Linked DNA regions of Homo sapiens: region 2 is linked to region 1. The links come from fine-mapping of genetic effects on gene expression. A gene starts in region 1. The other region holds a variant in brackets. All regions are shown on one strand. Distances are from middle to middle.

Region 1 (2,902 bases):
TGCACACGCACATCCTACTGCCATGCCTTCGTTTCCTCGGCAAGAATCCCAGCCACTTGTACACTCTGATCCTATACACCGTCAGGAGTCTCCCATCATTACCCCTTTACTTTTCTCCATTGGGTTGTCCCATACCAATGATCCCTGCACTTTTCCCACACTCCAACCCTTCCCCCACACAGGACCTTAGGGTTCTCCAGCATTAACCCCTTCACCCCCCTCCACACACACAGCCTCAAGTGACCCCAGCATTAACCCTTTCGCTTCTCCCCAACATTATCCCTCATGCATACCCAGCTTGGGCTCCTCCATTCCCCCCACCCCCCAACCAAGATTGCTCTAGTCCTCGGGCGAAAGAAAACGATAGGGCTCCTGGTCCAGAAATGAGGACCCTGGGGAGCGGGGGTTGTCCTCTCTACCTATAAATACCTTCAAGGTAACGGCGGAAAGTGAAGGGCAGGAATGAGGCGCCCTCCCCAGGGAGATGGTGGGGAGGCCGGGCCCAGGCAACCGGGGCGGGGCCGGGGCGCCAGGCCTGGTTGCAGGCGCTGCCCTCGGGGGCCTGGGGATTCCCAGGGGGCTCCTCCGTGGGCTGGCAGTCTTGGTGGGGGTCCCTACCCAGGCCCGGAGGAAGCACCTGCGGTTGTCCACTGGGTGGGCACTGCCCGCGGGGAACGGGCGGGACCGCAACTTCGGAGCACTTTGGCAGCGTGGGGAGGGGGCTCCTACCCGGACGCCCCCCAGGGGTCGCAGAGGTGGGGGCTGCGCCGCGCGGGCCCACTCCTCGGGGGTCCAGGGTCCGGGGGATGAGCCCTCCGCCCGTGCACCCCGGGGCAGGAGACCCCGCGGGACGCGCCGAGGTAGGGGGGACACCTGCCCCAAGACCCCCGCCCCTCCCCCCACCTGCACGGCCCCGCCCCCGGCCAGGCCCCGCCCCTGAAGGCCCCGCCCCCGCCCCCGCCCCGGGGGGTCCCGCCTGGCCCGGCCCGGCCCGGGGCCTCCCCCGCCCCGCTACGGCTCCGCCCCACCCGCGGGCTCCCCAGGCCGGGCCGGGCCTCACCGGGGAGGCGGCGCCGCCGGCCAGGTGCCGGGGCTCGGAGCTCCCCTCCTTGGTGCGGCCGTCGCTGCCGCTACCGCCGCTGCCGCTCCCGGTGCCGGTGCCGCGGCCTCCGCAGCCGCCGCCGCCTCCACCGCTCGGGGGACATTGTCCCTTTAAATCGCTCCCCCCGCCGCCCCGCCCCCCCGGCGCGCCGCCGTGACCTCAGCGCGACAGCCCCGCCGCGCCGCCATGATGGGGAGGTCCGGGGCGCCCCCCCCACCCCACCCCCCCCCCCCTCGCCGCCCCGGGGGGGGCGGCCAGCGGGCGCGCCGCCATGTTGGGAGTGGCCAAGCGGGTCACCCTTAAAGGGCCCGCACGGCCTGAGTCCAGGGAGAGGCCCCGTTACCATGACAACACCCTTGTCGTCCCACACCCCAATGGCTCCTTATCGTCCCACTGGTACTTCCAATGGTAGGCTCGCTAAAAGCACTAAAAGAGTGGGGAGGGTGCAGAGAAGTTCCCCCATGGGTCATTGATGGGTCATTGATAGGTCATTGAAGACTCCACCCAGCCAATTTTTAGCCTTTTGTCCCCTGCCCCCCATCAGCTACCTTCCAACCACAAGCTCACTCCCTCCTTCCCAATCATCCACACTGGACTTCAGCACCTCCATGTCCCTAGAGTTGCCCTAGGTCTTCAGTCCTAAGTCACCTTCTCCACCCAGTTCCCAGGATCACAGCTTCCAGGACTACCCCATCAGACACACATCATGGCCTGTTGTCTTGTCTTATCCACCATGTATCCAGATATCTAACCACCTAGCTATCTCATCCACTTCCTCAATCTATCAATCACTCATCTACCTATCCAATGAACTAATCACCTATCCACCCACCCCTCCAACCACCTATTAATTCACCCAAACACCCACTCAACCCACCCATTCACTTCCCATCTACCCACCCATTCATCCAGCACCCAAGTAAATACTCATTTATCCATACAACCAAGCAAGTACCCAACCATCCCCACACACATCTTTCCGCCCAGCCCCCCAAACATCCATCCACCAGTTTGTCTGTTGATTTGGTCCCTCCACTAACATGTAAGTTCCATGAGGCCAGGAGTCCTGTCTAGTTCATTATTGTTTCTCCACTGCCCAGTTCTCAGGCGTCTCAGGAGACCTCAACATATGTACATATGATATATATAATCACAACATTGAAAAAAATTTTTTCTTACTATGAACCAGGCCTTTTCTAGGCAGACATACCCAACCTGGTTAACCAACTACCCAGCTACTCACCTACCAGGTCAAACATCCAGCAAATGCTAACCTATCCGTCTGCCGTTTGCTCCACCCACTCTACCCCTCACCCATCCACTCACCCATGATTTGAATGACTCATTTACCCAATCATTCATACACAGTATCCAACCATCTCCACACCTGACCCCCTTCCTTTATCCGCCTCCCAGACCCATGGCCTCCGTGACATGAGGAGGGCCTAGGAAGATGCTCTCACTGTGGGATTGGGAGGTTGCCAGGGGTGGAATCCATGCTTCATTGAGAAGCAGGTGCTGCCTATAACAATGGTGAATACCTTTTATCGAATGCCTTTAACTATGGGTCCTCTCACTGTGTAGGGAACTTTACGTCCATTTCACAGATAAGAAAACGGGCTCTTAAGAGAATGAAGGTCTAAGGTCACACAGCTGGTGAGAACTTGTGTACATGGCCCTCTCCATGAGACTTCTAATTAGGGGAGAATTTGGGAGAGATGAATAGGGCTTGCGGGGCAAATGCCTAAGAATTGGCAATTCTTAGTGGGCAAAGAAACCACCAATTTCACTGAAATCAAG
Region 2 (2,902 bases), 29 kb after region 1:
CCTGTAACCCCAGCTACTCAGGAGGCTGAGGCAGGAGAACTGCTTGAACCCAGGAGGTGGAGGTTGCAGTGAGCCAAGAACCCCCCACTGCATTCCAGCCTGGGTGACAGAGTGAGACTCCATCATAAAATAAAATAAATAAAATAAAATTAAATTAAAATAAAATAAAATAAAATAAAATAGCCTGGGAGGCAGGGGGAAGAGCAGGATGGGCTTGTGCCATGTTGGGGAAATGTCAGTGGCTGAACTGCAAACCTAGAAATGCTAAGTTAGGCTCAGAGCTGGTTCAGAGATGGGTTATCAAATAATAGCTAACTTTCAGTAAACATTTACTATGTGCTAGCTACTAGTCTAGGTGACTTATATATTAATAATTTAACGCAGTTAGTCTTCACAACTCTTGTGAGGTAGGTCCTTTTAGCCCCTGTCTTAGTACATTGGTGCTGCTATAACAGATCTCTGAGGTTGGGTAATTTATGAAAAACAGAAATTTGGCCAGGTGTGCTGGCACATGCCTGTAATCCCAGCACTTTGGGAGGCCGAGGCAGGCGGATCACTTGAGGTCAGGAGTTTGAGACCAGCCTGGCCAACATGGTGAAACCCCGTTTCTACTAAAAATACAAAAGTTAGCCGGGTGCGGTGGCGGGCACCTGTAATCCCAGCTACTTGGGGGGCTGAGGCAGGAGGATCTGTTGAACCCGGGAGGTGGAGGTTGCAGTGAGCTGAGATCATGCTGCTGCACTCCAGCCTGGGCGACAGAGTCAGACTCTGTCTAAAAAACAAAAAAAAAGAACAGACATTTATTTCTCATAGTTCTAGAGGCTGGGAAGTCCAAGATCAAAGCACTGGCATTTGGGACTTCCTAGCCTGCAGAACTGCAAGAAAGTAAATTTCTCTTCTTTACAAATTTACTCAGTTTCAGGTACCCTGGCCTATATAGAAGCACAAAGGGACTAAGATGGTGTCCCTTTACAGATGAGGCATCTGAAGCACAGAGAGGTTAAGTTACCTGCCTAAGGTCACACAGGAAGGAAGTGGCAGAGGCAGGATTTGCCTTTGTTTTTTTTTTTTTTTTTTGAGACGGAGTCTTGCTCTATCATCCAGGCTGGAGTGCAGTAGTGCTCAGCTCACTGCAACCTCCTGAGTTCAAGCAATTTTCTGGCCTCAGCCTCCTGGGTAGCTGGGATTACAGGTGCCTGCCACCA[C/A]GCCTGGCTAATTTTTGGTATTTTTAGTAGAGATGGGGTTTCACCATGTTGGCCAGGCTGGTCTCGATCTCCTGATCTCAAGTGATCTGCCCGCCTTGATCTCCCAAAGTGCTGGGATTACAGGCCTGGCCAGTAGTAGAATTTGAATCCAGGAAGTCTTACTCGACACACTCTCCTGGTCTAGAATCTAGGTTCTTCTCCAGTCCACCACCTAACCTGTGTAGCTTTGCTCTTCTCTGCAAAAAATGCCCTTTCTGGCTTCTCCCCCAAATCATTTCTCTTTCTTCCTAGCCTAGCTCTTATGTCTCCTCCTCCAAGAAGCCTTCCCTACTTTTGCTCTCCAGGCCCCAGATTCCTTCCCTTATCCTTGCCTTGACTCTGTGGAGCTGGGAATATCTATGTCCCCATGCTGGAGCTTCTTTGAGAGCTTGAGTCTCCAGCCTCACTCCATGCAGGGCAAGACATAGATGGGACAGCAGTACGCCTTCTGCAGAGCCAAGAGGTTTGGTCCCAGGACTCTGCCCCCTGACTCACCTGTCCCTGGGTCTGACCACAGTAGCAATCCGAGTAGGATCCAGAGGACACCCTGGGCCATTGTTGCAGGATTCCAGCTTCCAAGGGGTATTTCTGGTTGGCCTCGGCAGAGAACCTCGGCAGTGCTGGAGGGAGACAGGCACAGAGAACTGAGCAGAGCCTTTGACCACTGTCAAAGTCCAGCGGCGAATGACAGACCTGCCTCTCGTAGAGCTGTGGGCGGGAGGCAGCAGGGACATGGGGCAGCGTACCCTGGGTCAAGGTCATCTGGGCATCCTGGTCTCCCCCAGTCTCTTCTGTCCCTCCTAGGCTGAGGTCAGTGGTCAGTAAGCCAGGCCCATCCCCAGAGGGGCCTGGAGACCAGGTGGTTCAGACTCCATAAACTCTGCCCATTCTCCAGTGAGGTGGACCGAGGCAACCCCTCAAGTCCTGTCCCTCCCCATAGTGACGGCTCTGTAGCCGCTGCTGGCCACCAGAGGGGACTCTCAGCTGCCGCCTGCTGTACTGGTAAGACCGGCTGTGTTGAGGGAGAGGAGAGAAGCAGAGGCCTGAAGTTGGCACTGCCTTCTGCTTTTTTTTGCAACCAACACTTCAGGCTCAGGCACAGCATCGGTGCGGGGGCTGAGGACAGTGTTTGCTGAGGCCTGAAGTTGGCACTGCCTCCTGCTTTTTTTTGCAACCAACACTTCAGGCTCAGGCAGAGCATGGGTGCAGGGGCCGAGGACAGTGTTTGCTGAGGCCTGCTCTGAGCCCATGGGGACCAGGGGCTGTCACCTCTCATCCAGTTCCAGCCCTTGATTTCAAGCCACCAGCAGTAGCTGAGAGCAGGGGTTGAGCTTGAGTGTTCAGGACCCTGGCATTGTTCCAGGAGCTGGCTTCTGGACTCACCTGGGCTGACAGTGAAATGTCCTTCCTCTTCTCCGGGTGCCCATGACTGAGACCTGCAGAATGGACCCATCTCCCCTTTATTCTGGCATCAGATGGGGCAGGTTGACATGACTGGGCTGTTGTGTATGTAAATTGCTTCCCTGTGGGGCTCCCACCTCAAAACCAGCCCGGGGAGTTTCCAGGAGACCCACCAGCTGGAGACTCAGCCAGGGCAGGCCTGGGAATGTCCAGCCTGAGCCAGGCCTGGGATTCCCCTGGGGGCCACCCCTGGGGCC

What was found.
Region 2: its variant is fine-mapped to the expression of WIZ in whole blood (TOPMed, PIP 0.96).

Annotation. Positions count from the first base shown.
Region 1 is chr19:15,448,738-15,451,639 of GRCh38, forward strand. WIZ (WIZ zinc finger) reads right to left here and starts at 1,219. Exons shown (of 13, transcript NM_001371589.1): 1 at 1,061-1,219. MIR1470 (microRNA 1470) reads left to right here and starts at 811; the gene lies at 811-871. RASAL3 (RAS protein activator like 3) reads right to left here. Exons shown (of 18, transcript NM_022904.3): 18 at 2,887-2,902. RefSeq lists silencers at 484-593, 944-1,063, 1,114-1,243.
Region 2 is chr19:15,477,572-15,480,473 of GRCh38, forward strand. It overlaps PGLYRP2 (peptidoglycan recognition protein 2), which reads right to left and starts at 1,930. Exons shown (of 5, transcript NM_052890.4): 1 at 1,740-1,930. The coding sequence starts at 1,800. The variant C/A (reference allele first, on the strand shown) is at 1,206.